Regions from separate parts of the Homo sapiens genome. Here all the other regions are reported to be linked to region 1. Evidence: microRNA targets listed by miRTarBase, many of them from high-throughput screens and not tested one by one. Region 1 holds a microRNA gene; each other region holds the end of a gene's coding sequence.

Region 1 (4,559 bases):
CAAGTAGTACAGTAGGCACAGATTAACATTTAAATTTTTCACATATGGTATATTTCAGAAATTTGAAGTTAAGCAAAAATTTTAATGAGTAGAGAAAGTAAGTAGCCTTCAGGAAATCTTCATAGAGGACCAGGCCCTTTTGGAATTGTGAATAGGTTTATTGCCTTACATCCTGGTACACATGTCCAAGGTCAGGTCCTGGGTGGTAAAGGTAAATACAAATTGGAAGGGCACTGTGTGAGCCAAAATGAGTCAGATTAGTCATGATTCATTTCCAGTTTGGGTTTTGGGTGGTCTTGGAGAATGTTGTAAGCACTGCTTCATTGATAGGTTGATTGAGCCAGACTTTACTCAGCAGCCTGGAAAAGGAGAGATGGGCTCTGGGTTCTACCTTTGCTCACTGGTAAGTTGCTAAGATTTCAGCTTTGCCCTCAAACCCTGAAGTAGTCCTTCATTCACACAGTGGGATCACTCGAAAATGTCAGATGGGGAAGTCCATAGGTTGTTACTTTAAAGAAAATAGAAAAAATGCTGGAAAAGGTTTCTTCAATTTTAATACCCATGAAGGCCCATGTTTTAGCTTTCCTCCGATGGGCAAACCATACACTAACTTGGGCCTTGTAATCAACAAGCAAGGCTAAAAGCTCTCTAAGTGCTTGCTGTTTAAACTATTTTGTGTTGGAAGAAGAGTTGGAAAAGAGGCAGTGTGGAGGTGAGGGAGAAGTTCCCTCCCTCCAATCATTTCCAATAAATGGAAATTTAAGGAGAAATTTGTGTTTATCCTTAATATCTAAGATAATCACTGTGCAGTGCCATTGGTACTTTTCATGAGAGTAGAAACATCAAACTTCCTTGGATGGGCCCAACCCAGGTGACTTAACTCTGGACCAAATGTATGCTTTTTGTTTTATCCACTGTGGACAGCTGCATAGATAATTGGTCTTTGTTCTAAACTGCACATAAAAACATGGGAGAAAATGACATTTGTTGCCTTTTGATGTGCCAAAGAAGAGTGGGAATGTTCTAAGAATTCTTTTTGGCTTAATCTTTGTTGAATTGAAAATATGTATAACTCTTCTGCTGAAAGTGTAGCAAGTACAGTCATGAAATTTTGTGGTCTTCCTGACATGTTCTTCCAGCATAACGTTGCCACCTTCAGTTGGAAACGTATCCTTATCTAATAATTAAGCCCTGGAGAAAAATTAATTTATATATTTTATTAATTACATAAGGACATTGTTATTAGCTAAGCAGAGTAAGTAAATCGAAATAAAACTTTAAAAATGCCTTTATGGAGAGAATGACTATCTCTGAAAGCTTGTTTTTAATGATGATAAAATTCATGATCAGAATTTGTTTCTGTTTGCTTTAATTCAGGGGTCAAAAACTGAAATACCATCAGAGGCCCAGGAGGGGCTAGTTGTAACTGGCAAATATAGTAAATTAATTTGCTCTGGTTGATAGGTAGCAAGCAGGGTTTATATACATTGTCACCTACTTTTCCAGTTAACAGGAGAGACTGGAGATTTTATGAAATTTGATATTTAAATGTTGGTAACTGGGTTGGGCACCATGGCTCACACCTCTAATCCCAGCACTTCGGGAGGCTGAGGCGGGTGGAGCACCTGAGGTCAGGAGTTAAAGACCATCCTGACCAGCCTGGTGAAACACAGTCTCTAATAAAGATACAAAAATTAGGCCGGGTGTGGTGGCTCATGCCGGTAATCCCAGCACTTTGGGGAGGCCAAGGTGGGCGGATCACCTGAGTCAGGAGTTTGAGACCAGCCTGCCTAAATGGTGAAAACCTGTTTCTACTAAAAATACAAAAAAGTAGCTGGGCGTGGTGGTGGGCGCCTGTAATCCCAGCTACTCTGGGGGCTGAGGCAGGAGAATCACTTAAACCCAGGAGGCAGAGGTTGCAGTGAGCCGAGATCACACCACTGTACTCCAGCCTGGGTGACAGAGCGAGACTGTCCAAAAAAAAAATTGATAATTAAATGTTAAAAGTCAGCGACTCCAGTAATACGTGGTGGGCTGAGTATTAGACTACTGGCTTACATCCTCTGATGTCATTACTTTCTTGTTCGTTTGTGACTTGAGGTTGGATTTTAAGCAAATGTATTTGTGGCTTTTTACCAAGGTCATATGGCCAGATAACTTTTCAAAAGCATTAGTTAAAGAATTCTGATTAGTTTGAATTAGAAACAAAACTCAAAGAACATGACCTAATTTAACAGGTTAATTTGAAGTGCATCTGCCAAGTAGAAGACCAGCAAGAAAAAAAAAATGGGTTCCTAGGAAGAGGTAGTAGGTTGCATAGTTTTAGGGCAGGGATTTTGCCCACAAGGAGGTAACTATACGACCTGCTGCCTTTCTTAGGGCCTTATTATTCACCGATAACCTGTTTCCTTGCTACTTTGCTTTGGTGTAAGCAGAGTTCTTTCTGTAGGTTTTTTCAAATGAAAACATTGCAAGAATATCAAAGAGAGCAGTGTTTGCGTTAGTGATTATAAACTGCAGCATGGTGCTGACATTGATAACTGAAAGTCAACTAATGAGAATTTGAGACTTCTGAAGTACACTTAGTTGCTAGTGTCTCCCTTTTGGTGTCACTGGAAAGTTTAGAAAGCATGGTTTTGTTTTTGCTCAGGTTTCTCTTTCTGTGATGCAGAGACTCTCAGCTGTTCCTCCTCTATGTCTACATTATGTCTGAAGGAAAGAATTTAACAAAACTTGAAATACTGCTGTTTTTCTACAATGTTTGTAAATATTTATCTTGCTGCTTTTCTAGGTTTGTCTTCTGGATTTAAAATTTGGGGCGGCTGGGGTGGAATTGCATGGTTTGGGAATGGGTAATTGAGCTGCTGCTCATTATGGTATGTAACAGTGATTTGTCTGTTTAATATGTACAAGAACTGGAAGGTCAATAAAATGAAAGTGGTTGTCTTGACTGGGTAATAGTGTTACATATTTTGTTAAAAGTTATACATCTTTTCAATAAAAACACTGCATACTTCAAAACTAGTGCTTTTTAAGTCATCCTTAACCCTTATCCCCATCCTTGCAGTAGTAGATGCATTTTTCATTTGTAATTATTATGATTTGTTCTTAGTTTCATTTTTCATTAGCAATAATTTGGTGATTGGATGGTCATTTACAGATGTTTTAATAAAGCTAACACGAGCAATTTCCAGCTCTTCCATTTTTGTAAACACTTGTGTGACTTTGTACAGACAATTAACTGCTCAGGATCACCCTCCTTTTTGTTTTGTTTTTGAGATGGTCTCATTCCGTCACCCATGCTGGAGTGTAGTGAAATGATCACAGCTCACTGCAGCCTTGACCTCCCGGACTCAAGCTTCCTAGTAACTGGGACTACAGGTGCATACAACCATGCCTGGCTAATTTTATTTTTGTAGAGACGGTTTCACCATATTGCCCAGACTGGTCTTGAACTCCTGATTATCCTCTGGCTTTTACCTCCCAAAGTGCTGGCCAGGACAGCCTCCTTTCTTTACTTGAGTAATTATTTGAGTTTGCTCAGGCAGACACTACCTTGTAAAAACTCTTATGTCTCATTTCACTAGTCTAGTTTGAGCATTTATCATTCTAGGAATGAGACGAATTTGTGCATTAGCATTCCATCTTTTTCCAACTACTATGAACAGTAGTATTTTTTTTTATTTTATTTTATTTTTTGAGACAAAATCTCACTGTTTCCCAGGCTAGAGTGCAGTGGTGTGATCTCAGCTCACTGCTGCAACCTCCACCTCCTGGGTAGAGTAGACAGGATTTAGGTAATTTTTTGTATTTTTATTAGAGACAGGGTTTCACTATGTTGGCCAGGCTGGTCTTGAACTCCTGGCCTCAAGTGATCCACCGGCCGTGGCCTTCCAGAGTGCTGGGATTACAGGTGTGAACCACCCTTGCCTGATCATGAGCAGTAATACATTTAAAAGTCTCCAGGGGTGAGAAAGTTGAAAGGAAATTCAGTGGAGTTTCCCATCCTGCCCCTCTGCTGCCTAGCCCCTTGCTCCAGTGGAAGGAAGAATCGTGATCTAGGGATGTTCTCATACTTGGGGCTTTAAATTTCCTTTATGAATTGAGATGGTTGGGTATGTTTTCTAAGGTACCTTACATGGTACAGTTCTTTAAAGTTGAAGATTTAAGTTGTGGCAAAATTGCATCAATTTCATGTGCACTGATTTAGGCGAAGATGCGTAGGAAAAGAGCAAGGAAATGAGGTGTGATAGGATTGGGGTAATTTCAAAATGAGTATTTCTGCCTGGCCTAGTGGTTCACGCCTGTAATCACAGCACTTTGGGAGGCCAAGGCAGGCAGATCCCCTGAGGTCAAGAGTTCGAGACCAGCCTGGCCAACATGATGAAACCCCATCTTACTAAAAAAAAGTAGCTGGCATGGTGGTGGGCTACTTGTGAGGCTGATGTAAGGAGAACCGCTTGAACCAGGGAGGTGGAGGTTGCAGTGACCAGAGATTACGCTATTGCACTCCAGCTTGGACGACAGAGCAAGACTGTCTTAAAAATGTTTCTAGTTTC
Region 2 (4,559 bases), not on the chromosome of region 1:
TTTCTCATGAAGAAAAACTATCATAAAAATTTTAAGGTAAAATTTAACACGAATATTAGGAAAAAACACACTTTCGCAATTTGGAGTAAGGTGAATGACACATCCTTTCCTTTTCTAGTAATTTCTAAATTTAGAAATTGAGAAATTTTCTAACAGTGTCAATCTCAACTACTTCTTACCTGAAAGGTTTCTTAAGATTTTGTATAAATTAATTTACTTCATGCTATACATTTAGGAGGCAAAAATTCAATGAAAATCATTTCATGACTTCAAGCACAGAATTTCAGGATGTCAAAATCATTTGATATCAAATAAATGCAATGGTTAAAACAACAATAAGAATCCACTGCCATCAAACAAACTTTCCCCGACCTGCCTCCCATTCCAGTACTGACAAAATCAGGACCACAAGGAGATAAATGACCGAAGTGTATATGCTTCAGTTAAATAAAAACATGGGAGACTGTAGCCCACATGTTAAAGAATACATTTAATTTTAACAGGGCAAATAAACTAGTTTTTAAAGGTAGTGGTGGTGTTGGCTTAATTTTGAGTGTTCCTTTTATTTCCACCTGAAAAAAAAAGTGAGCTTTTCCTCTAACTGCTTCCCAACAGTTCAATGACAGCAGAACATCAAATCTATGATGGTGCTGGAGATCTTCTATAGAGACAAGGAGAGATGCAACTTCGTGAGCATGTTTTAGTCTGCAGAAAGAAAGTGGAAAAGAGAAAGAGAGAGAGAGGAGAACAAAAACTAATTTTCCAGGCAGGGGAATACTTATAAAACCTTTTATGTCAAAGTTAGGATTTCACAACATAACACACTAATGCAAAATCCAGTAGCACCTGAAAGATTTAAGTAAATGCTGTCATCATTTAAATGCTTTTAAATATCTGTAAAAGACTGGAGGAAAAAAAGATAAAGTACATTCTCCAGAGAACAAATGTATTTCAAAATAAAAACTGTATTTTTGCTTTTCTTTTTTTTTTTCAATTTTTGTTTTTGTACAAGATTCAATAGTTATCACATATTAACTTATACACAATGGGATCAACCTCCTCCTCCATGTCGCTTCAAGTCCACATGTTCAGGCTATAGTCCCCAACATTATTTTCTGAGAAATATATTACCACAGTTTGATTTAAATATAGATACAGTATATAATACTTGTCTCTGGGAAAAATCAAATTTTAATATGCAAATGTTTATATAATACAGAAATGGAAAAAACTACAGTAGGCACACAACCTAATTATGACTTGTGGATGATGATTTCTACATACTCTCCTACTGTAAATGAATAGTTAAAAGTCTTAAGAAGATTTTATTTATATGTGCACTTGTGTCCACCTTATCCCATATACTGTACATGTCTATTGACAATCTGGGAATTTAAAGGTGCAGCCCTCAAGAGATTGTTAAATCACTAAAAAAGGAAACAATTAGGCTCTATTGGACAAGAAAAACACTCACAAAATTTCCAATTTTAAATTTCATTATCAGTAGGAAAGTATTAAAAATAATTTTCTGTATATACATATGGGTATATGTATATATTGAATCACACATATGTCCCACATTATCAATACAATTCAAATGGAGACATTTTGGTGAGTTTTTTCATTAAATGATCACTATGTCAAAATTTAAAAATATTTTATTACATCATTAAAATAATTCACTTGCCATTTCAACAGCTTACACTGTTTTTTAAATTTTTTTAACTCTTCATACTAAACTCCCTGATCCCTAGTGTTAAATCTCCTATTTAAATTAAAACTTGGTGCTCTTTGTTACTCAGAAACTGATGGATAAAAACACATTTACTTCAAAATTCCATCAATCAAATACATTTTGTTACCTGATTTATCAGAGAAATATCTCAGCTCTGAGCATGTGTATCTAAATTATTCTCCCTATAATATATAGGTGAGGAAAATATCCTAAAATAGATGGAGGTAACGTACATGATGTTACAGCACATATAATACATGATTGTTATAAATTTTTCAGAGACACCTGAAAACTCACTTAAGAAACTAACTTCAGAAACAAACCATTTATTTTTCACTCTAATGTAAATTAATATGTATGTATTTACGTACATACACATACATAAAAAACAAAATTGTCTAGTATTGAGTAGCTGTTTATGAGTGAAAAAATGGTTACAAATTGGTTAATTAGCTTAATTTTGTACTTAACAATTCGATCATTTTGGGGTACAAACAAGAAGTCAGTGCATTTATAGACTCCATAGAGTCAGTTACTCAAGCATACACTTTAAAAAAGAACCCTCCTCAACATCACAGGCATTGTACAGCAAGAATATATGTACTCTGATGCAATTCCTACTTTATAAGCAGACTAGACAGCACTTGGCTTACTTTTAAAATAGCTTCGTAAAAGAAATATATCATATAAAGAAATGCATGTTTGCTAAAAGTCTTTTAAAATTACATCAAAACAACATTAAAACCTGTTCACTGAGAAGAGCCTATTGAATTTAATTCCTGTTTTGAAATACCTAGTTAACAATTCAGAATATTGCCTTGTGAGGTTTGAATCAAGATGTGATTGATGTGTAGAGCCAGATAGAGTACATGACTCCATCTCTATCTGCCACGATCACAATTTAGATAGAGTCCTCTGATCAGCTGTTTGATGTAAATGGACCCCCTTTAAAATAGCTATACACCTTAAAATTATCTATAATAAACAGTTCCCCAATAACCATTATTATTCGTAAATTGAAATGCATTGATCATTCAGAAAAGATTTCTTGCAAAATATATAAATAAATGTAACTGCATATTCTGTAAATATACTTAACATTGCTAGACCAGCCTGTCAATGACGGGCTGCTGTATTTCAGTACTGTGTGTCAAATTTATTAGAAACTTAAAAAGAAAAATTTCTGAGGGACTCAGCTGCCTTCGTTAGTTGGCTTTAAAATGTGTAATAAAATGGGAGACAATATCTTCTCATAAATACATGGAATCAATATGGAAAAGTAAACTATACAACAGACAAGATTAGAGAACACCAGAGTGTACCAGAGTAGTCACCAGAGTGAAATATCTTCCAGCACAAAAAAGGGAAGAACTCTATACACCCAGTTATAGTATATTTCAATTAAAGATACAGCTCTCTCTCACTCCTGGCAAGAATTAATTGGTAATGGCACTGCTTCTCAGCAGTGCAAAAATATCCTGAGAAATTATTCAGATTACAACAAAAGACAGGCTTTCATCACTAAGTTTTTGCACAAAACACAGCTCTAGATATCGTAAATAAATTAATTTAAAAAGCAGATAATCTTCACTGTGTTGAACACAAAAAGGGGATGTGACCTAGACATTGTTAATTCTCCCATTGGCTAATATCAGGAAAAAAGATTGCATTAAGTGTCTATTTATAACTTTCTAGTTAACTATGGCCAATAATATACATGGAGGTAATTTGTAGTTCAAGTTTTTCATCTTTTTTCCCCAACTAGCTACAAGCTGGATTCTAAAATTTACAGTGAAATATACAATTCCAATTTCAAAAGATCCTCCTCCTGGAGGAGTGATATTCAATTTTTTTTTTTTTTTTTTTGTGCAATCTTGATGCAGAGCCTAAACAGTCCTATGAAGAGAGACAGTGTATCTTTTAATTAATTGGCACTGAAATTTCACTTTCCTTAGCTGCATTCTAGTAGCTTGGCCAAGTTATCTCGTAATTCTGTTAGTTCAAATATCTTTCCATCCAGAATTTCTAAGAGTGTCTTCAGGTTATTGCGAAAAGCTTCTTGTTCATTCTGACTTTTCTCCAGACGTTGCTCTAAGTCAGACAGTTGTCCCTCCAGGTCTTTGTTCCGAATTTCTACTTCCTTCAGAAACAAAAGTGTAACATGTATATATGTCAATTCATCACTTAGAAAACAATACAACTCTCTGTTATTACCAATATTGCGGTAATCAATGCAGTTTGACTGTCAGGATGAGCTGCAGAATCTTAATTTAGCACAATTTAAGGAGATTTTAGACTTGGCCATCCCAGAGAGCAATACGATTTTAATGACTGGCTTGGTTATCAATCTATCTAACCACTCAACGAAAATCTACTGACTCATTACTTTGTGCCAGGCAACACTCTAGGTACTTCAAATACCAAGACAGGCTTGAAGACCTATTTATGGATCACTTAGATCTCATTTTTATTGCTGTCCACCTATTTCTCCTAATGCATAATTATTAGCAATCACAGGTGAAAGCAGGCAGAGAAAGAAAAAGAAATTAACTTTTTCTGTTTACTGGCAACTCTAGAGAAAGATTTAGACAAGAAAGTAACTCTCTAAAATGTGATTTTAGGATCCTCTGAATATGTTATTCTTTGCTTTGCCTCAATATCAAATAAATGTATATGTAGAGAGTATCACTCAATTGCTAGAAACTGTAGTGAAGATACATAATAACTGTACATATTAGAGAATTATAAGTTAACAGTTCCAATACATTGCAAACCAAGGGAAAAAAATGACAAAAGGAAATCAAATGTTCATGACAACAAAAAA
Region 3 (4,559 bases), not on the chromosome of region 1:
GATAGGGATCAGGCTCAGTCCAGGATGGCAAAACAAGAGAAGCTTTGTTGGGGTGATCCATGCCTGCTCTGAGGCTCTGACCCCTGGTGGTCTTGCTGTGGTTGGAAAACCAAACCCCAGTACCTGAGGGACTGTAGGGTGGATGATTCATGTGCAAGTGTGCACACAGCAGGATGTGGGAGGCTGAGGCAGGCAGATTAGCAACCTAGTGAGCAAGGAGCCCACCAAGCCTCCTGGGCTCCTTCCCAGGTACCCCAATTCCATTGACAGGGGGCCGCCAGGGCAAGCTCCCGGTGACTGCTTTTGAAGCCTTTGATCTGGAGGCCCGTACATGGACCCGGCATCCAAGCCTACCCAGCCGTCGGGCCTTTGCTGGCTGCGCCATGGCTGAAGGCAGCGTCTTTAGCCTGGGTGGCCTGCAGCAGCCTGGGCCCCACAACTTCTACTCTCGCCCACACTTTGTCAACACTGTGGAGATGTTTGACCTGGAGCATGGTGAGCAGTGGCTGTTCTGGGCTGTCCTCCCGCTCTCTGTGGGATGGAGGGGCATAGTGTGTACATGACTAGATCTGACCTCCCCTCTCCTGCAGGGTCCTGGACCAAATTGCCCCGCAGCCTGCGCATGAGGGATAAGAGGGCAGACTTTGTGGTTGGGTCCCTTGGGGGCCACATTGTGGCCATTGGGGGCCTTGGTAAGTCTCTATGGGGCTGGGGAGAGGAGGGAGTCCCAAGACAGGAAAGACTAGCCCCCAGCATGTGTGTCACCTTCTGCCCATCTCCAGGCACTCCAGGGGTCAGGGCTTTGTGAGCTCTTTTCCCTATCTATGAAGTAGGCAGGATGTGGTCTGCCTGGCCCAGCACTCAGGGTGTTCCTCAGTGACTGGGGGCTCTGTCAAGCACCAGCAAGGGTCTACGAGACAGCAGCAGGACAAATGACCACTGTATGCACAGTCAAGAGAACATATAGAAACATAAATGAATGAACAAATGATGAACATAGGCAATGAGGAGCAAGGCCCTGATAGCTCATCCTGGGGTGATAACTACTGGGCTATTCTCTGGGCTTAGGGAGCAGAAGGGCCTGGAGTCCCTACGGCCTGTGCCTCTCACAGCCTTCTCTCTCCTTCTTGCAGGAAACCAGCCATGTCCTTTGGGCTCTGTGGAGAGCTTTAGCCTTGCACGGCGGCGCTGGGAGGCATTGCCTGCCATGCCCACTGCCCGCTGCTCCTGCTCTAGTCTGCAGGCTGGGCCCCGGCTGTTTGTTATTGGGGGTGTGGCCCAGGGCCCCAGTCAAGCCGTGGAGGCACTGTGTCTGCGTGATGGGGTCTGAAGGCTTGGTGGGAGCTGTCCACTGGAGCAGCTCATTGCCAGAGGCAGCTATTTCTATGGCTCCTTTTGCTGCTGAGGACACTCACTGTGGCTCTGTGGGATGAGAGAGGCATGGGGGTGAGCACTTGAAACACTGCCTTGGGGCCTTGGGTTAGGGGAGCCTTTGTCTTTAGTGCAGGACACACATATGCTTACACCTACCTTTATCACCATTCGTTCATGAATCATGCCTAGCTCCATCCTTGCCCTGGGACCTACTAGGCCTTCCATCCAACTGGGAAATGGGGAGAAGCAAAGCTGGCCTCATGCTCTTCAGGGTCAGTTCCTATCTGGAGTTGACCAGGCCTACCCCAGTTGCCATTCCTGAAAAATCTCAGCTGCCAGGCTGCCTTTAGGGTCCCTGCAGACCCAGGAGAGTTGAGAGGGTGGGGGACACAGAGAGAATAGAGAGGATGTGGGAACTGCCAGAGGGCCGGAGCGCAGGAGTTCAAGTGGAGGAATGCTGGCTTTGAGCCCTCTACACTGCTGGTTGTATGACCTTGGACAAGTCACTTCACCTCTCTGTGCCTCAGCATCCTCATCTATAAATGGGGATCTCTGAAACCTTCCTACCCTACCTACCTCACAGGGCTGTTGTGAGGACCCAGGGAGTTTGGATGTGGAAGTAAAAGTGCTGCTAAAACCTAGTGTGTGGACCCTGGTGTGAACTCCCTTGTTTCCACTGCCCCTGCCTTCCTTTGGGGGTCTCAATGCCCCTAGGGATGAGGGTCCAGAAGGAGCCTCTTGGATCTGGTCGGTGTTCCCAAAGTGATTTGGTGTTTCTGTTCCATCTGAGCCTCAGCTTATTCTTTGGCAACATGTGATGACAGCGCCTCCTTACTGTCCTGGGGATTAGAGAGCACTAGGGCAGTAAGGAAGGGCTGTCACATGTCACCAAAGGATGGCAGGATAAGATGACCAGAGAAGTGCTCAGAAAACAACAGAATACCACAAGGTTAGGAAGACCTCCAGATCCAAGTTACAGAGTGTCTCCTTAGGGTCTCTGCTCACCCCCACAGGGAGGGGTGGTGCAGTGGGTTCTGTGGCCCAGGGCAGTCTCTTTCTGTCTCAGCTGTGGGGCAGCCGTCTCTTGGACAGGACTGTGTGGCCACCCAACAAACCCCTCAAAGGCAGCTGCCTCCTGAGAAAGCTGCCAACTCTTCCTTCTTCCAGCCTTTGTCGCCCACTAGTACTGGTCTCTGGGGTCTGCTTTCCCCATAGCTAAACTGAGTACTTGACCTGCTTCCCCAGTGATGCCTTTCATTCTAGGGTGAAGCACCTAGAAAGTCAGTGGCCCACAGGATATTTGCACATTGTCTGGCACGCTGGCAGAGGAAACCAACACAGAGATGTCTCTGGGGGAATGGGCTGTTTCCCAGAGGAGAAAGGTTGTGGGGAAGTTAGTCACTCCGCTGCCTTCATAAGGAGCCCTCCCTCAGTGTCACCCCCTTCACCCTGCCACCTGCTCTGTCCTGACTTCAACTTAGGCTGGGGACTGCCCTCTAATCTTCCTCTCTACAGCTGGGTTTACTGCAAGAACAGAGTAGTACTTGGGGCCCTGGAACCCACCTGATGTGGCTATAGCAATCCTCCTGGACTCTTAGCCTCCTGCAGGCCTTACCCTTTCTCACTTAGTGGCAGGGATCCCAGAGCAGCACCTCCCATGCCCAGCACAGAAACACACCATGGGCACAAGTGCCATGGGAGACAGGCACAGGACCTGGCAGCCTACTACTACCTTTCAGCCTCTTGGGCTACATCCCATTGTGGGCTGCAAGCACAGACAGGCTGCTGTGTCAGCTGTCCTTGTTTAATGCTCTGGACCAGTTTAGACACTCAGAGACCCCAGCATGAAGGTAGTGCTGCAGCAGCTTGGGTCTTGGGATCCCTGGGAGGTCAGGCAGTACGTCAGTGACCGGCGCCTGGGGCCCTACCTTGTAGCTGCCATAGTGGCCACCCTGGGATGGGCAGCAGAAGTTCTGCTGGTAGGTGGTCCTGGTATGGGAAGGCTGGACCTGCACAAAGTGGATGAGGTGCTGGGGGAGGCCACTGAGTCCTGGGCCTGGCCTGAAATCAGCCTGGTAAGAAGATTCCAGGGGCCCCTGCTGGCGCAACTCTATCTCACAGGGTGCCCAGCGCAGGAAGGTGTGCCGCTGCCACAGGCGCTCCAGGTCCTTCCGCCTTCCGATTCCCTGCAGCAGGCAATAGGGACCCTCCTCAACGGTATGGGCCCTTGGCCCACATTCCTGGCACCAAGCACCTTCTTGGGCCCCTCCTAACCCCAAGTCTGCTTGGTGATACCTGTCCTATGCCTGGCTGTCTTGGCCTGTACCCTGGCCTCCTTGGCCTGCCTCCCCAGTGATGTCTTTCATTCTAAGGTGAAGCACCCAGAAAGTTAGTGGCCCACAGGATACTTGCATATTGTCTGGCAAGTTGGCAGAGGAAACCAACATAGAGATGTCTCTGTTTGGGGGAATAGGCTGTTTCCCAGAGGAGAAAGTTTGTGGGGGAAGACAGCCACTCCTCTGCCTTCATAAGGAGCCCTCCCTCAGTGTCATCCCCTCCACCCTACCATCTGCTCTGTCCAGACTTCAGCTTAGGCTGGGGGACTGCCTGCCATTCTTCCTGTCTTCGGCACTCACTTTGTCAAAGGAAGTACGGTTGTCGTGCTTGGAGAAGAAGTGTCGCTGCGCCGGCTCCTTGAAAGACAGTGAGAAAGAAGGTGAATGGGGAAAATGATGCTTATTTACCCACCCTTACCTGGATCACTGCCTCAGGGTCCTTAATGGAGGGAAGTCACCAGGAGCCACTGCCCCTAAGCTGCTAAACTGCCAACAGACAGAGGGCAGAGACTAATTAAAGCAACACTTCAGTCCTGGGATATCTCAACCTGGGACTTGCCCTGAAGCAGAAGCCCGTGGAACCCTTATTGAGGAGGGTCCTCAATAAGGAGGCATCTGCTAGAACATCCTCCCATCAGGGGAGCAGTGGCCAAGTTTCAAGTTGGGCCTTAACTCTTGATTGCCCAGGACTCTAGTCCTCTCCTCCCCTGCATCCACACTTACTCCCCCATCAACATACCCAGCCTCTTGGCTCTAAATGCCATCTGAAAACTGGAATTTCTATCTCCAGCTCAAACTTTCTCCTGAACTTTGGGTTCAGTAGACAACTGCCTACTCCACATCTCCATG
Region 4 (4,559 bases), not on the chromosome of region 1:
ACTCTCACACTGTCATGCTGGAGTCAACCTCCCATTTACTCTGATTTTTTTTTTTAAAGAGATGAGCCCAGCGCTTTGGAAGGCCAAGGCAGGGGGATCACTTGGGCCCAGGAGTTTGAGGCCATCATGGACAACATAGCAAGACCGCGTTTCTAGAAAAATAAAAATAAAAAAATTAGCTGGGTGAGGTGGCATGTCCCTGTAGTCCCAGATACTTGGGAGAGTTAGGCGGAAGGATCTCTTGAGTCTACGAGTTCAGGGCTGTAGTGAGCTATGATCACAGCTCTGTACTCCAGTCTGCGCAACAGAGTGAGACCCTGTTTCTTAAAAAAAAAAAAAAAAAAAAAAAAAAAAAAGATGTGGTCTCAGTAAGTTGCTCAGGCTGGTCTCTAACTCCTGGATTCAAGGAATCCTCCCACCTCAGCTTCCAAAGTAGCTGGGACTACACGCACATGCCACCATGCCGTCTTGATAATGTTTTTTAAATTTTAAAAATAATTGTTTTTTGAAATGGTATCTCACTCTATAGCCCAGGCTAGAGTGCAGTGGCATAATCTCGGCTCACTGCAACTCCACTTCCCGGGTTCAAGCAATCCTCCTTCCTCAGCCTCCTGAGTAGCTGGGACTACAGATGCCTGCCACCGCAACTGGCTACTTTTTGTATTATTAGTAGAGATGGGGTTTCACCATGTTGGCCAGGCTGGCCTTGAACTCCTGACCTCAGGTGATCCACCTGCCTTGGCCTCCCAAAGTGCTGGGATTATAGGCGTTGAGCCACTGCACTCAACCAAATCTTTTTTTTTTTTTTTTTCGTAGACAGGGTCTCACTATGTTGCCCAGGCTGGTCTTGAACTCCTGGCCTCAAGCCATCCTCCTGATTCGGCTTCCCAAAGTGCTGGGATTACAGGTGTGAGCCACTGCGCCTGGCTTATTTTCTGTAGTTACTACTGGAATTGGATCTTTGGTCTCTTACATTTTCCAACTCTCGCTCTACCGCTATATTGGGAAACTGTTCACTGTTGTTTACTTTTTCAACTTAACTGGTGATCAGGCTCCTTAGGTAACAGAACTTACTCATCCAACAACTTCCCAGGGGCTCTCGTGTTTGGGGGCGGCCCCTGGTCCTGGTCGGGGCGCTCCTCTCATTCCCACCCAGCCTCACTATTGCGGAAGGAAACCCTGCGGCCCATGTCCTGCCCTCTGGGACACTGGGTGCTGATTGACGGCAACCCTGACCGTGGGCACCTCCCCAGTCCAGGAGATGGTGTGGGTTGTGGTGGCTTCACCCACCTACACTTAAAAAAACAAAAAGCTACTCAGGAAGCTGAGGCAGGAGGATTGTTTGAGCCTAGGAGGTGGAGGTTGCAGTGAGCCAAGATCGTCCCACTCCAGCCTTAGCAACAGAGCCAGTCTCAACTAAAGAAAAAAGTGTCTCAGGTACCGTGCCATGGCTTCATGAGAACTGATGTAACCCCCGACTCTGGGCAGGGCTGCCAAAGAGTGAGAGAGTGGAGACTCTCTCTCACCACTCACTTCCTGGCAGCTACTTTTCTGGATGCATGGGCAGGTCCCCTACACATGAGATGGTGTGGGTTGTGGTGGCTTCACCCACCTACACTTAAACGAAAAGCTACTCAAGAGGTTGAGGCAGGAAGATCGCTTGAGCCTAGCAGGCGGGAGGTTGCAGCGAGCCAAGATCACCCCACTCCAGCCTTATCAACAGAGCCAGTCTCAAAGAAAAAATTAACTGTCTCGGGTACTGTGCCATGGCTGCATGAGGACTGATAAAATACCCGACTCTGGGCAGGGGTACCAAAGAGTGAGTGGAGACTCTCTCTCACCACTCACTTCCTGGCAGCTACTTTTCTGGGTGCACAGGCAGGTCCACTGCACATGGTAACAGCCTGCCGACTCTGGAAACACAGTTCAGGATCCCAGTCCTAGTGCACTGGTCAGACTTTCAAATAAGCGAATAACGTTGTGGGCAGCCTGTTTTGTTCGCTTTGCTGGCTTTACAGGGTACTTCCTGTTGGCCTGAAATACAATGTTGGTAAAGACAGTTTTTCTGTGGCCTTTCTCTGTTGTGGAGGATTTGTTGTTTTTAAATTACGATTCAGGACTGAACTGTATCATAGAATGTCCTTCTTTCAGAATGCTTTGTGCCAAAACAAGAAACCTCAGAATTACATGTTAATAACAACAAACAAAACAAAAAAGACCAATAGGCAGAAGGCAAGAAACAAAAACTATTCTTTGTAGATGGTGTCATTTTACCAAAAGTTAACAGAACTAAACCAACAAACTATTGAAAATTAACAACAGTGAGATGACTATACAAATATATAATTAAAAATAACTTTCCCATGTAAAAGCAATAATCAACTATAAAAATATAATGGAAAAAACTACAATAACAAAATTGTGTAAAACAAGTGAAGAAAATTAGAAAAATTTTCACAGGAATATAATACTCTAATAAATAGAAAGGCATGTTTCTGGATGGGAAACATACACTATAATTTTTCCCAAATAGCTTATAGGATTTCTTTATTCCAATCAAAACACCAATGTATAACTTTTGGAAACCTAAAGCAAGCAAAACTGAAGAATCCCTAAATCGCACCACACGATCAGTCCGTAAAGGCACCGCTGGCCTTGCTTCTAGGCAGAGGACAGGAAGGTATGGATATCAAGAGGCTGAAGACAATTAATACCCACTACAATGAAGACACCTGGAAACCTGTCTCTTGAGAGGCAATGTGAGCTAACCACTGGAGACGTAATTTCTAATCATACAACACTTTGCCTTGTGAGGTAGTGACCACCCCATTGCCAAAGGTCTGATGACAGCATAGAGGGGACCTAAGCATATGGTAAGGTTATTGATGAGACATGGATCCAAGCCAACTTTTTCCTGCCTCCAGGTTGACCCTTCCTCTCTGGGTCTTGGGGTTTCCTTCGTAGCACATGAGATCTGGGCTCAACAGAGGGACAAGATTCTGAAGAGCTTTTCTAGTGGTGGGGCTGGATGGCCCTGCCTGAGTAATCCAAACTTCTTTTAGCAAGGGAGAAGCATGAGACGGCTGCTGGAGAGATCAACAGCAGAACAAAATACAATAAGAACAGTAGACACCTAAATTATGTTGTGAAAAGGAATCTGTAAAAGTCAGTTTTATCACAAATTGTAAATATTATTGAAATTGATTGCAAATTTAGATCACATACAAATGAGAGTCTGACATTCAACTGTTTTCCTATATTCCAAAGTAAACAATTCCTTTCAACACTCAAGACTTAAACAGGTATTCTTAGAGGGTTATATGAATTGCTATCAGAAGCTGTTGGCTAACAAGCCAGTAATTTGGTTCTTTCACCAGAACACAGTTCCAGATAAGCATCTTTGCACTATTTCTCAAGTATGAATCCCCATGTGGGGGGAAAACGGATATACTTTCAATAGACACAAGTCACTCTTTGCCTTCCAAGTAAGCAGACTCCAGATTCATCTTCAAAGTGTTGGGAAAGGGGATCTGTGACCTGTACATTATCATATAACTTCAAAAAGGAAAGCTCCTTAGTCCAAAAAGCCTAGATGCTGAGGTATAGCCCTTGAAATGTTTTCTTCCCTGTGAATTTTCTAGCAATTTGAGGTTTTAGCTAAGATGGGCATTTATCCAATTTTGGCAATAATGAGATTTTTACACATTTATACCTTTTTAGGCAGCTTGGGAATTCAGAACTACTTATGAAAGCTCTCAGGTTGAGGCAGCACCATCAGACCCAGAAAGGGTTCCCAGTATTACTTCTGCTTTCGGGTCTTACAGGCTGAGTGGGTTTTCTCATGCCGGGTACAGTTTGACAGCCGACCAAATCTTCTCCCACATTTTTTGCAACCATATGGTCTCTCAGCCTCATGACTCTGCAGATGAAGCACAAACTCCTCATTCTTTGGGAAGGTTTTCCCACATTCTGGACACTTAAATATCTTCTCCCTTATATGGATTCCTTCATGACGACTCCGATGAGAATTCTGACGGAAGTTTTTTCCACACTGAGAACAGGAATAAGGTTTCTCTCCTGTATGAATTCGCTCATGTTTATTGAGGTTTGTTTTATGATTGAAGCTTTTCCCACAGTGATTACAGTCATAGGGTTTTTCTCCAGTGTGGGTCCTCTGGTGGGAAATGAGGTAAGAACTTTCATTAAACTGTTTCCCACACAGTGGACAAGTGTACCATCTCCTTGTCCTCCGATTTCGAGTAAGGGCAATAATACTGATGTCTACATATTTTGAGAGTTCCTCTAGAGGAGTATCATTCTCAATGGTAACTAACAGATTTCTCATTTTCCTTTTTTGTGGAATGGATGTATTTAGTCGTTCCTTTTCCTGGTTATCGGGAGGCTGCTGAGAGACCAAGGAAGAATCCATTTCATCATCATCTGAAGACTTTTCTCTATAATCTTCATTTTCTACAGGTTCCCTCTCAGGATCTTCACCTTCAGGATTACTGCCATTGACTGCTGAAACAAAGAGAGAATTTAACAACTTCTGAGAGATA
Region 5 (4,559 bases), not on the chromosome of region 1:
GTGAAAGTTTTGATGTATATTCTTCCAATTTTTCTCCACGAATAATATTTTTTTATTTTTACATGAAAAGGGTCACAATGGACAGTGTTTGGTGTAATATGGGAGGAGGTTTTCTCACTTAATATATCGTGAACAATTTCCATGTCAATTCCCACATTTTTTCTAATGGCTGAATAGTAACCCACTTGTACTGATGGCTTTATTGAGCCAGTTCTGTAATTATAGGACATCAGGTTCTTTCTCGTGTTTCACTCTTTAATAGAATAGTCCTATAGTTAACGTTTTGTAACATCAATATTTCCTTGCAGTAAACTCCTGGAATTTACTTTTAAGTTGGTAACCATTCCATTTTTCCCATTTTTTAAAAAAGATGTATTTAATTCAAAAATAATAAATAATGACCCTGCTTCTGCCACAGCTGATTTGAGGTGTCTGACAAACCTCGTTGAAACCTGGGCAGAGAAGAAGAAACTAAACGTTAGACTCTAAAGATGTTTTCAAAGAAGGGAGGGCTAAGGAGGGGTGGGAGCCTGGAGAGCCAGGGTGGCAGCGAGAAGGGCTGGACCCCTAGTCTGCAGACCCTCAGCACAGAATGGTTTGTGAAACCTGGGGCAGCTCCGAGCCGTTCTCTGTGCTCGGCTTTTCCAGCTGTGCGGTGGGAGCTGGGGATGTGGCGTGGGCGTGGGAGGCCGCTGGAGTCAGGCGTGGGGAGAGTGGGGGACTATCCAGTGACCCTCTCAATGGGCGCCGGCTCCGTCTCGGCTCCCGGGTTCAGGGACTGCACGTTTCTGAGACCGAGTTTAGGGCTCCAAGGCTCTCTTCCCAAAGAGGGTTTGGGGCCAGCAGGATTGGGTTTTCTGAAGAGGCCTGGTTATGCCAGACTTGGCTTTGGCGGCCGCTGGCGGGTCTCCCTCAGCACCCCCTCTTCTTTCCCCGGCTATAAGAAAGCTAGACCAGGGTGCGCATTCTTCCCGTGCCTAGGATACTTCACGGTGCTAAAAATAGTCCTGGGAGCTGGGACCTGTGTATAGCCAGAGGTTTGTGTGTGAGCGAAGTTGGAGTCCTGGGTTCGAATCTAGATAAGCTTCCCTCCGTGCTGTGGGGCTTAGATCACCTCCCTCCCTGAGTCTGTTTCTCCATGCGCGCCGGAATTTCTAAACGGACTCCCAGAAAGAAACGGAAAGAAAGAAGGTAAAGAAAAGAAAAACAAAACAACAAGAAAGAAACTTTGATTTTTCTCTCTGCTCCTCCCCAAGGGCCCTGGGGCCTCGGGCCGGGTACTGAGGCCGAGGAAGGGGTGCGTCGGACAGGCTCATTACCGCCAAGTGTTGCCCTAGTTAAATCGCGGGCCTGTTTGATCTGGCGGCGGGTGGCGAGAGGGAAAAAAGAAAAAAGTAGGGGGGCGAGAGTAGAGAGAGAAGCTCACACCTCCCCCACTGTTTCCTAGCGCCCATAAAACACCTTTTATTAACTCCTTCGCGTCCGGAAAGGCCCGCGTGGCCTCTCGGCCCCTGCTACGGTGTTTACAGCCAAGACTAATGGGGTCCCATATTCACCCCGACGCTGGGACAAGGCGCCTGGGGCACGCCTGGTGCCCCACGAGGCCCTGCCCCGGAGCTGCCTGAGGTCTCCTTTCTTGTTCCCAAGCCGAGCGCTCAGGCTCCAGGTGCGCAGAGCGAAAGTTCCAAGACAGCCTCACGGGTCTCCCCTCCTCCTTCGCAGTGAGCGCCGCAGACCCTCAGGCGCTGCAGAGCGTGCGCTCCGTGGGGCAACCATGGGAGCTGTTGGGAGACACAGAAGTGCTTAGCGCAGTGCCTAGCACACAGTTGCACGCAACCAAAGTATTCGTACATTATTATTCCTGGAAGTATAAACCACTGCGTTTGCCCGCCCCAGTTTAGCCCAATACGCATCCAAGATCCTTGGCAAATGCACCGAATTTATACCCACCACACCTAGTCATGGGTGCGCATGAGAGAACACAAAGACTGGCTCTCCTGCACAAGTGCCCGAATGAGCACGCATACACACATACACCCCATCCCTTTGCACAAATCCATATGCTCTCACAACCTTCTGTCGAGTGCTTCGTTGCTAAAGAGAAACCTAAATACCTCAATTTAACATATAAGCACTCACAAGCTTATTTTACTCAGGTATAAAATAATAATAGCTGCTGTGACTTGTCAAGTCCTTACTGTGTGCTTGGAGCTGTACTAAGCAGACCCTTGTTGGCCCCTGCACAGCCTCAGGCTCCGTATGAGTTGCTGCACTGTCACATGTACATCTATATGTTGAGAATTTCACATACATGAACATATTCCCCACCAACACCCCCTCTCCTGAGCTACCCTGCCCCAGGGATAGGATTCACCTGTGTGCTAGGCCCCCTTCCCTCCCAATAAACACTCCAAACCACTCTTTGCAGACACCAGTGGGCATACTAACCTCCAGACAAGCACGAATACTCAACGCACAAAAACCCGAGCCCAGGCCCTCTGAGACTAATTCGTTTCCGTTTTTGTTCTTCCCCGTTCCCATAAGTTACCCCCACCTCCCGTTCTAGTCTAAAGAGAACTTTGCTCTTGTTCTTGAAATACATTCTTTATCTGCCGGCTTCCCTTGATTTCAAGTTTGGTTTCGTGTTTATCAAAAGAAGAGGAGCAGGAACAGAGGCTTTCCACCTAGCAGAAGCCATGGGAGTCGGTGAGGGACCCCGGTTGAGACATGACACAGGCTTCAGATGATTTCAGAAAATGTTTTATTAATCAAGAGCATAGACACTGCTTTGGCGAAGGGAGGGGGGCTGTGAGTGGTCACACAGACTTGAGGTAGAAAAGGGTTGGGGATGGCAGGATGAACAAACACCTGAGCACAACAGGCATGGTAGGTAGTTTAAATACATAAAAACTTTCCAACACAGGGAAAGCTTTTATTTAGATAGAAACAAAAAGGAAGGAAAAGAAGGAAGAAAAGAGAGAGACAGAGAAAGAGAGAAAGTGTTTCCCTTGGAACTAAACAGGAAGTGCAGCGACAAAAAGAAAAATAAAATAAAACCACCACGATTCGAAGAACAAAGGGCAGCCTTTCATCTTCCTGCGTCTGGTTCTCTTTCTCAGGCAGAAAAGAATTGATTCCTTATTGCATTTTAATTAGAGAAGACGGCGTCGGGGCGGATCATATGGAGGGACAAGAGAGAAAGAGCCAGATAGGGAAATGGAGATAGGGCTGAGGTTCTAAATTCGCTCCAAAAGGGTGGAAGAGTGCGTCTTTGAGCCCTTGGGTTCGACAGTCCCTCCTTCTTGCATGTTGCCGCCAAGGGCCGCCCTCGGTTGGGCTGGGGGTGGATATATATATATTTCTCTTTCTCTTAATGTATTAAAAAAAATCAAAGGACATTGCACGTGCGATCCAAGTGTGTGGTTGCAGCCGACGACCTGCCGGCGCTCAGCAGAAGCTCCGCGGGATGCGTAGCACCAGTCGCCGGAGCCCAGAGCCTGGCGTTCGCCGCTGCCTTCCTCTCCTCCCGGGGCTTCAGGAGTGGCTGGCCTGGCCAGGTCCTCGGCGCGGGCCTCGGCTCACTGGTTTAACTCCAGCGCCCAGACTTGCTGCGGCCAGCCGGTGCGTCCTTTAATCCTCTTCTCGACTGGGCCCAGGGCAGGAGGAAAACCTTCGTGCTGCTGCTGCCAAAGGACACACAGAAGAAAAGAGGCGGGAGAGACAGGTTTTAATTTTTCTGCTCCGATCGCCCGGCATGGGGTAAGATGAGGAGGAGGGGAAGGTGTCGGGAGCAGTAACTGGGAGTCTTTAAATAAGTGACGGATTTCTGTTTGCGAAATAGGCAAACAGGCTCGTAAATTTGCCTTTATGCGCGGAGTTCCTGGGACCCGGGATGGGCTGGGCAGCTTCGGGAGGTTTGGTAAGGAAAATGTTCTGCGTCTGGTGAAACTGACGCGCGTTGATTTGGCTTTAGGACACCTAAGGGAGATCCCAGGATATTGGAAGGGAGGGGTGGAAATCCACGGTTCTCCCGCTCTCGCTGCACCCCACACACTTCCGCCAGCCTCCCAACCTGGTTTAAACATCAGGGCTTGGATGCAGGCTTGGGGCCCCCTAAGCCGGAGCTGGGAGCCTCAGATACGGAGGTAAAAGAGCGGGGAGTCGAGCTGGCCTAGCGTCCTCCTTCCCGCTCTTTCAGCAGGAACCAAGCGGTGCTACTTGAAGGAGGCGGCGACGCGTGGGGGCCGGGATCCGCCCAATAACAACTTCTTTCGAGGCGCCGCACCTCGAAAGAAGCCGGCCTGCACCATCCCCAGTCCGGGGCAGCCGTTTAGAGACTCGATGCCTATTTATCTTTCCCTCGTCCCTGGATGAGCTTTCGTCAGTTTACCACAGGCCCCCGCAGGTTGGATAAACCAGGTGGGGCGCTTCAGCTGGCTCCACTCCGCTACGGCCTTAAGCCCCCCAACCTAGAGAAACTGATTGGCCAGCCTGAAAACCCAGCGCTCAGAAGCCCCCAGCCCCGGACAGCCAGACCGAGTGCCAGGAAGTGTCACCCT
Region 6 (4,000 bases), not on the chromosome of region 1:
ATGGGAAGCGGTCTCGAGCAGAAGCCCCACTGAAGTGTCCCCTGGCAGACACCCACATGAACTCTTCCGAGAAACTCCAGTTCTATAAAGAGAAAGCCCCAGATTGCCATGGGCCAGTGTTGAAACACGAAGCTATCTCAAGCCAGGAGTCAAAGAAGAGCAAGAAGAGACCTTTTGAGGAGTCAGAGACAGAACAGAATAACTCTTCACAACCTTCAAAGCAGAAATATGTATGTCTTGCTGTGGAAGACTGGGACTTGTTAAATTCCTATTGATTAGTAGATACAAGTTGACCTTTCTCTGGCCCCCAGCTCTAGTGTTTGAGTAAAGGAGACTGAGGATGATTTACTTTTTGTTTGAATTTACCTATGGCATTAGCATAGTAAGCAGATATTTCTACTTTTGTGGTGTGGGAGGGGAATGCTATGGAAGTATGTAATAATTTCTAATGTATATTTTCAATACATAGTAATTTTTTCAAATAAACATTTTTGCTGTCCTTAAGTTCTGCTTGTGGATTATAGACTGGAGCCACAGGAAATAACACGGTTTGGGATGGAAGGCCAGGTGAACTAACAAGGCAGCTTAGCATAACTCAGAGATACTGCAGGTTTGGTTCCAGACCACTGCAGTAAAGCAAACACTGCAATAAAGTGAGTCACCAGACTCTTTCATTTCCTAGTGCATATAACAGTTATGTTTACACTATATAGCAGTCTCTTAGATGTGCAATAGCATTATCTCCAAAAAGAAAAAACATGTATATACCCTCATTTTAAAATACTTTATTGCTAAAGAAAATGCTAACAATTATCTGAGCCTTTAGCAAGTTACATTCGTTTTGTTGGTGGTTGGGGGGTCTTGCCTTTGTTGGTGGATGGATGCTAACTAATCAGGGTGGTGGTTGCTGAAGGTTGGAGTGGCTATGGAAATTTCTTAAAATAAGACAATGAAGTTTGCCACATTGATTGACTCTTCCTTTTGTAAAAGATTTTGCTAGAGCACACGATGTGGTTTGATAGCATTTTACCTACAATAGAACTTCTTTCAAAATTGGAGTCAGTCCCCTCAAACCCTGCTGCTGCTTTATCAACTAAGTCTATGTAATAGTCTCAGTCCTTTGTTATTTCAACAATGGTTACATCTTTACCAGGAGTAGATTCCATTTCAAGAAACTACTTTCTTTGCTCATCCATAAGAAGTAAGTCCTCATCCTTTCAAGTTTTATCATGAGATTGCAGCAGTTCAGTCCTATCTTCAGGCTCCACTTCTAGCTTTCTTGCTATTTCTACCACATCTGCAGTTTCTTCCTCCACTGAAGTTTTGAACCCCTCAAAATCATGAGGGTTGGATTCAACTTCTTTCAAACCCTTGTTAATGTTGATTTTTTTTTTTTTTTTTTTTTTTTTTTTTTTTTTTTGAGACAGAATCTTACTCTGTGGCCCAGGCTGGAGTACAATGGCATGATCTCGGCTCACTGCAACCTCTGCCTCCTAGGTTCAAGTGATTCTCCTGCCTCAACCTCCCAAGTAGCTGGGATTACAGGCGCATGCCACCACGCCTGGCTAATTTTTATATTTTTAGTAGAGATGGGGTTTCACCATCTTGGCCAGGCTGGTCTTGAACTCCTGACCTCAAGTGATCCACCTGCCTCAGCCTCCCAAAGTGCTAGGATTACAGGAGTGAGCCACCACACCCGGCCCTAATGTTGATATTTTGACCTCTTCCTATGAATCACAAAATGTTCTTAATGGCATCTAGAATGGTGAGTCTTTTCTAGGAGGGAAAGTTTAGTTTTGTTTTTTGAGACAGGGTCTTGCTCTGTTGCCCAGGCTGGAGTGCAGTGGTGTGATCATAGCTCACTGCAGCCTCGACCTTCCAGGCTCAGGTGGTCCTCCCACCTCAGCCTCCCAAGTAGCTGGGACTACAGGCACATGCCATTGTCACACCTGGCTGATTTTTGTATCTTTTGTAGGGATAGGGTCTCACCATGTTGCCCAGGTTGGTCTCCTGGGTTCAAGAGATCTGCCCACCTCAGCTCCCAAAGTGCTAGTATTACAGGCGTGAGCCACTGCACCTGGCCTCCAAGAGGTTTTTAATTTACTTATTTACTTTGTCCAGATCCATTAGAGAAGTCACTGTCTATGGCAGCTATTGCTTTGTGAAATGTATTTAATAATAAGACCTGAAAGTTGAAATTACTCCAGATCCATATGCTGCAGAATAGGTGTTATGGTAGCAGGCATGAAAACAACATTCATCTTGTAAGTTTTTGGGTGATCAGGTATATTGTCTATGAGCAGAAATATTTTGAAAGTGCCTCTAATTTGTGGACTACACATTGAGTAGCAAAGCTCTAGACCTTTACTGTCCAATATGTAGCTCCTAGCTACATGTAGCTATTAAATACTCGAAATGTGGCTAGTCCAAATTGAGATGTGCTATAAAATACACACTGGATATCAGATATCAAAGACTTAGTATCTAAAAGTTTGAATGAAAAATGTCTCAGCCAGGCGTGGTGGCTCGCGCCTGTAATCCCAGCACTTTGGGAGGCCAAGGCGGGCGGATCATGAGGTCAGGAGATCGAGACTATCCTGGCTAATATGGTGAAACCCCGTCTCTACTGAAAATACAAAAAATTAGCCGGGTGTGGTGGCATGCACCTGTAATTCCAGCTACTTGGGAGGCTGAGGCAGGAGAATCGCTTGAACCCGGAGGGCAGAGGTCATAGTGAGCTGAGATTGTGCCACTGCACTCCAGCCTGGTGACACAGCAAGACTCTGTCTCAAAAAAAAAAAAGTCTCCATTTTGAAATACTGGTTACATGTTAAAATGGTAATTTAAAATAATTTCACCTGTTTTTATTTTTCTAATACGGCTACTAGAAAGTTTAAAATCACATTCATGGCTTGCATTTGTGATTGCATTATATTTTTACTGGACAGGACTGCTCTAGACCGTATTCATCTTTAAAAGGTGAGCTAAAAGCAAGAGTTACTGGCAAGTAAAAGGAAGGGAGAAAATACCTCAAGAAATTGACAACATTAGTTTGACATTTGTAAGTGCTCTGGAGTTTAATGAGGATTTTATTTATTATTTATTCATTATTGTTTTTTAACTTTTAGGTTCAAGGGTACTTACGGAGATTTGTCATATAGGTAACTTGCGTCTCATGGGGGACTGGTGTATAGATTACCTCGTCACCCAGGTAATAAGCGTAGTTAGTACCCAATAGGTAGTTTTTCGATCCTCTCCCTCCACCCTCAACAGGCCCCAGTGTCTGTGGTTCCTTTCTTTGTATCCATGTGTACTCAGTGTTTAGCTCCCACTTACAAGTGAGAACATGCAGTATGTGGTTTTCTGTTTAATCAGGATTTTAATAAAGGTAGATCTTAGATAAAATATGTGTTAATTGCTACTCTGAGCTAGGCAAGGTACTACCTCTTTAAAGGTGGGCTGTTACCCAGGATCATATCAAAAGCTTGATTTCTGAAATTTATAAAATGAAAAAGCGAATACAGTGCTGATTGGTTTTCTCTGTAACAAAGTAGAGTTTTAAAATATCATTTGAGGCCGGGCACGGTGCCTCACGCCTGTAATCCCAGCACTTTCGTAGGCGAAGGCGGGCGGATCACTTGAGGTCAGGAGTTCAAGACCAGCCTGGCCAACATGGTGAAACCCCGTCTCTACTAAAAATACAAAAATTAGCCAGGCATGGTGGTGTGTGCCTATAATCCCAGCTGCTCAGGAGGCTGAGGCAGGAGAATTGCTTGAACCCGGGAGGCGGAGGTTGCAGTGAGCCGAAATTGCGCCACTGCATTCCAGCCTGGGCGGCAGAGCGAGACTCCATCTTTAAAAAAAAAAAAAAAATCATTTGAGTGGACAGTAGCACTCTGTCAAATTCCAAATGCCAATCAACAGCTGGCTCTACTTGTCAAAGTTGGCATATTATTGTTAGTCAAACCAGAGTCCAATTTGATCACCCCCTCATGCACAC
Region 7 (4,559 bases), not on the chromosome of region 1:
ATGTACTCTACACCCTGTTGGCTATTTTTCTGGGGTTAGACCTCTGGAGACTTTTCAGGTAGCCTTGAGGTTTCTGGCCTTGCCCGGGAATTACTGGCTGCCCAAAGAGAGACTGGAGAAGGTGGTGGTCTCCTTGCCCTTGTGGTCCTACTGTGTCTCATTTTGATTGAGTTCTTTTGGCTGGTCGGAGTGGCTGGATAGTGTTGGCCCACTCCATTCCTCAGGTTTTTTTGAAGCGGTGGTCTTTTAGGGAGAGCCTTTTGTTCCTGGAACTTCCTTGACGGGTCCCTGTTCCCTTCCAGGTTGTCTTGGCAACCTGGAAAACCAACCAGGAGATCAAAGAAGGGCACTGGTTTGGGGAAGAGGATGGAGAAGGGGTGAGAACAGGGGCTTCATAGAGAAATGGGGCAGGGTGGGGTGGGGGTTGTGCCAGGGGAGGACAGGGTAGGATTTAGAGCTTCGGTGGGCCGTTCACTTTGATAGGGCTTCTGGGCTAGGGTTGAGAGGATGCTTTCCACTTCCTCACCTCTTTGGTGTTGGTGGGTGGTTGTTGGACAATGGGCTGGAGGCTCGTGGTTTCCTGGACATCTTCACCAGACCAGTGTCTCTCAACAGTCTACTCCAGTCCACCTGGTCTCTCCATGCCTCCCCCAGGACAGTGAAGGCAGGCCAGCAGGCTAGAAACTCACAGCGCATTTTTATGTTAGTCTTGTGGTAGAATTCCTTTTCCAGGAAACCTTGGTCTTTTCTCTTAACACCTTCAACTAATTGGATGAGGCCTATCCACATTATGGAAGTTAAACTGCTTTACTTAAAGTCAACTGATTGTAAATGTTGATCACATCTACAAAATACCTTCACAGCAACATCTAGACTACTGTTTGACCACACAGCTGAGCAGTATAGCCTAGACAAGTTGACACATAATACTAGCCGTTGCACATATCTTGCACCATACAAAAATGTAACTCAAAATGAGCCACAGACTTTATATGTCACAATTACATTGCTTTTTTTTTCTAGGACAAAACAAAAAAAATTGTGTTACCTGAGGTTATGTCTTAGCTTAGGCTGCCATAACAAAATGCCATTGACTGAGTAGCTGAAACAACAGAAATTTATCTTTTTTCAGTTTTGAAATGTGGAAGTCCCAGATCAAGGACTGGCGGGGTTGTCTTCTGGTGATGGCCTTATTCCTGGCTTGTAGATGGCCCTTTATTAATTTGTCAGTTCTTGGCCTTTCCTCTGTGTATGTGCAGAGAGAGAGAGAGGAAGAGAGAGAGAGAAAGAAAGAGAGAGAGAGAGAGAAGTCATGCAGGCACAAAAGTACTTTCTTCTGTTTCTTCTCCCTTCTTACAATCACACTAATTCTGTGGGATCAAGCTCCCACCCTTATGGCCTCTTTTAACATTAATTACTACCTTAGAAGCCTCATCTCCAAATACTGACACCCTGGGGCTGAGGGTTTCAAAATATGAATTTGGTGGAGGACATAAGCATTAGCAAAGAATAGACACATAGATTAATAAAACAGAATAGAGCTCAGAAATAGACCTGCACACACATAGTCAGGTGATTCACAACAAAGGCAATAATGGTGAAAGTACAGGTTTTCCAACAAAAGGTGCCTGAACAATTAGACACCTATACACAAATTATAATAACCTAGACATATCCTTACATATTGCACGAAAATTAACTCAATACATCATAGACCTGATGAAAAATACAAGAACTATACAACCTCTAAAAGAAAACGTAAGAGAAAATCCACATAACTTTGAGTTTGGTGATGAGTTTTTAAATTCAACACCAAAAGCATGATCAAGGAAAGAAAAATTTGCCAAGTTGATTTTATTAAAATAAAAATTTTATGCTCTTCAAAGGACAATGTTAAGAGAATGAAAACAAGCCACAGTCTAGCAGAAAAAATCTGTGGTACACATATGTGATAAAGAACTTGTCTCTACAATATATACGAATTCTTAAAGCTCAATGATAGAAAAAATGAAAATAGTCAAAGATCTGAACACAATCTACACAAAAGAAGATACACACAGGGCAAATAAGCATAATAAAATACTGAGTGTCCTTTGGCATTAGATAATTGTGTACTAAAGTGAGATACTACTACACACCTATTAGAATGTCTAAAACCCATAAAAAAGCAAAACAAAACCAAGACCAATTGCCAGTGAAGATGTGGAGCAACAGAAACTCCGGGCGTGGTGGAAATTAGAAGTTTAACAAATGGCCGATGGCTGTTATTTCTAATATTTTTAAAGCCTAGGCATTAACACTCTGGGACTTTGTTGTTGTTGTCGTTGTTCTCCAGGAGTCATCAGAAAATATACAGCTCAACAGGACATGGGATAATTAGGCCAAAAAGGAAGCTTCACCTGTAAAATTCAGTTAAGTATTTCCTCTTAGAGAATGCACTTCAAACTTTGTGTGTGCGGGAGTTTTGCCCAGCCAGGTGCAACCCAAAACTCCTAGAATGTGTGTCAAAGACCAATTCCTTCCATCTCTCCCAGCTGCTTTCCCACCCAAACCACTATTTTCATCCATTTTGTTACCATCCAAAATCTGGCCCACGCCTACAATTGGTCAAATTGCACTTGAGATAACCTAGTTAGAATGCCTTTTTAATGGAGTCAGCTCTGGCTCTCCCTGCCTGGCAGAAAAGCACCTGGCCAGTGGCTTCTGGGTCACCCTTCCTGGGAAATTCAGCCTTATCGCTCAGGAAACCCTTGCAGATGATAGATTTTCATCACCTAGATCTTGGGTTGTGTTCAATAGCAGTGGGACAAAAGCACAGGACACCTTCTATTCCAGCCCCAGGTGGAGATTCCTCTCTGTTCATCCCCCATCCGAAATAAACTACTCAGAGTTGCTTTCCATTCCAGGCTTTTCTCTCATTCACTGAGAATCTGTGGGCCCTGGACCCACCCAGCTTCATCAGAGTCAGCTCCTTCAGAAGGAACTGCAGGTTCCCAAAGTCCAAAATGCCCCAGCTCAGGGCATTTACACTCCACAACTCCCTCCTGGAACCCCACACCCTCACCCTTCTCTTATATTTCCTCTACATCTTACAGGACTTCTTGCCACCTTAATTATATGACTGCAGGTCCTAGGCTCTACAACCCTACGGGTAGGCGTGAGTCTTGCTTACCTTAGCATCCGCACTACTAACGCAGAGCCTTCCACAGAGCAGATGCTGAGTGAATGGAAAATAAATGAGCCAGTGAACAGGAAGAATTATTTATTCAGATTTAATTTCTCTTAAATTCTCAAAGAAGCCAAGGATATCCAGGTATCCATGCTTTTTTTTCAAATTTACAGAATAGAGTGAGGTATAAGGCAAGAATTAAGTATCTTTTAACTTCTTGAGGTCTTTATCTCATGTATTTTACTGCTAATTCTTTCACAATTCTAAGCACATACTTTTTCCACTGCTGTTATTTGTCACAATTCACAAAATGGAATGGATTTCCCAATCTGAATAAAAAACAACACTCTTACTCCTAAACTATATAAACAGCACTATGTGTGACTACTGTCATTCATAAACTTGGATGCTGAAGTTCATTCAACCATCCGTTAAAAGGAACATTTGAACAATTCCAACAGGAAACAAAGATAAATCTCAAAGTCATCCAATAGAACAGAAACTCACTACTAACAATACTGACTGCTCTCTTCAAAGAGTGAAGAATGGGCCTCATGTCACACGAGGCAGTGGAAACTAATGGATGGGGCCTTGGAAGGTGCACTGGCCCAGACCCCCTCCCACTGGCCCTGGCTGCAACTCGTGCTCAGACTCACTCTTCCCCCTCTCTAAAAGCCCATTCATGCAGGGGTGGGTAGGAAATGTGAGGTCCTCCACTGATCTTTAGCAAATGGTGCAGGACTTTCACATAGCTGGTTTCAACGAGGGCCCTTGGACCCCACAGGAACTCGTAGCATGCAGGATCACTGCCGGGGACCTGCCGGTACTCCAGGTAGTTTTCCTGCACCAAATCTTGGGTGAGCAGCTTCCTGGGATGCGCAAAGACACTGTCCTCCCTCCCATCAGATGCCTCCAACACACTCAGCTCCTCCCAGATTTTCTCCTCAGGGGCACAGTCGCCCTCTTTTGCGATTATGGCCAGGACGATTATCAGGAGGCCTGTCTTGGGCACGATCTGATTGTCGCCCAGCAGGCCATCGTAGGAGAGGCCCAGGCAGGTGACAAGGATGTACAAGTGGCCGATGCGGACCACTTCCACCACCTCGATGCCAAAGACCAGCTGCAAGTACTCGGAGGCTTTGCTGAAGATCACAGGAAAGAAGTCCTGGAAATTTCTGATGACACTCCCCAGCATTTCTGCCTTTGTGAATGGCTCCCTGGCTCGATACTTGAGGAGCAGAAAATGAACCAACTCAGCCATCTTCCTACTGAGTGCTACTTGGAAGCTCGTCTCCAGGTCAGGAAAGGTGCTTGGCCCTTCCTGTTCTTCGTTGCTGGAGCCCTCATCGGATTGACTCCAGAGAGTATAGTTGATGGTAGTGGGGAGGGT

What was found. Region 1 holds the annotated microRNA hsa-let-7d-5p (AGAGGUAGUAGGUUGCAUAGUU, at 2,301-2,322, shown strand). A microRNA usually pairs through its seed, bases 2 to 8, with sites in the 3' UTR of a target mRNA and lowers its output. Matches are read on the target gene's strand: a 7mer-m8 pairs with bases 2 to 8, a 7mer-A1 pairs with bases 2 to 7 and ends in A, and an 8mer does both.
Region 2: miRTarBase lists HOMER1 as a target of hsa-let-7d-5p. The part of its 3' UTR that is shown has no 7-base or 8-base seed match.
Region 3: the mRNA of KLHDC8B is a reported target of hsa-let-7d-5p. Seed matches in the 3' UTR shown: 8mer at 1,947-1,954.
Region 4: miRTarBase lists ZNF200 as a target of hsa-let-7d-5p. Seed matches in the 3' UTR shown: 7mer-A1 at 3,597-3,603 and 8mer at 2,811-2,818.
Region 5: miRTarBase lists HAND1 as a target of hsa-let-7d-5p. Seed matches in the 3' UTR shown: 8mer at 2,828-2,835.
Region 6: miRTarBase lists LRRC42 as a target of hsa-let-7d-5p. The part of its 3' UTR that is shown has no 7-base or 8-base seed match.
Region 7: the mRNA of MAGEA12 is a reported target of hsa-let-7d-5p. Seed matches in the 3' UTR shown: 7mer-A1 at 3,350-3,356.

Annotation. Positions count from the first base shown.
Region 1 is chr9:94,176,541-94,181,099 of GRCh38, forward strand. MIRLET7D (microRNA let-7d) reads left to right here and starts at 2,294; the gene lies at 2,294-2,380. It overlaps MIRLET7A1HG (miRlet-7a-1/let-7f-1/let-7d cluster host gene), which reads left to right. Exons shown (of 5, transcript NR_170278.1): 3 at 3,280-3,381. LINC02603 (long intergenic non-protein coding RNA 2603) reads right to left here. Exons shown (of 3, transcript NR_160773.1): 3 at 29-1,191. RefSeq lists an enhancer at 2,705-2,754.
Region 2 is chr5:79,372,323-79,376,881 of GRCh38, forward strand. It overlaps HOMER1 (homer scaffold protein 1), which reads right to left. Exons shown (of 9, transcript NM_004272.5): 9 at 314-3,875. The coding sequence ends at 3,687. Among named protein-coding and RNA genes, the nearest start is that of JMY, 140 kb to the left of the region's middle.
Region 3 is chr3:49,174,472-49,179,030 of GRCh38, forward strand. KLHDC8B (kelch domain containing 8B) reads left to right here. Exons shown (of 6, transcript NM_173546.3): 4 at 271-495; 5 at 591-692; 6 at 1,134-2,015. The coding sequence ends at 1,330. It overlaps CIMIP7 (ciliary microtubule inner protein 7), which reads right to left. Exons shown (of 4, transcript NM_001080528.3): 3 at 4,011-4,067; 4 at 3,163-3,581. The coding sequence ends at 3,165. Among named protein-coding and RNA genes, the nearest start is that of KLHDC8B, 5.2 kb to the left of the region's middle.
Region 4 is chr16:3,220,093-3,224,651 of GRCh38, forward strand. ZNF200 (zinc finger protein 200) reads right to left here. Exons shown (of 5, transcript NM_198088.3): 5 at 2,233-4,521. The coding sequence ends at 3,800. Among named protein-coding and RNA genes, the nearest start is that of ZNF200, 13 kb to the right of the region's middle.
Region 5 is chr5:154,472,228-154,476,786 of GRCh38, forward strand. It overlaps HAND1 (heart and neural crest derivatives expressed 1), which reads right to left. Exons shown (of 2, transcript NM_004821.3): 2 at 2,745-3,683. The coding sequence ends at 3,579. Among named protein-coding and RNA genes, the nearest start is that of HAND1, 3.7 kb to the right of the region's middle. RefSeq lists enhancers at 206-1,177, 1,178-2,149, 3,820-4,559 and a silencer at 3,478-3,665.
Region 6 is chr1:53,967,665-53,971,664 of GRCh38, forward strand. It overlaps LRRC42 (leucine rich repeat containing 42), which reads left to right. Exons shown (of 9, transcript NM_001256409.2): 9 at 1-504. The coding sequence ends at 275. Among named protein-coding and RNA genes, the nearest start is that of LRRC42, 23 kb to the left of the region's middle.
Region 7 is chrX:152,736,369-152,740,927 of GRCh38, reverse strand. MAGEA12 (MAGE family member A12) reads right to left here. Exons shown (of 3, transcript NM_001166387.4): 3 at 3,259-4,559. The coding sequence ends at 3,822. It also overlaps the pseudogene CSAG4. Among named protein-coding and RNA genes, the nearest start is that of MAGEA12, 4.9 kb to the right of the region's middle.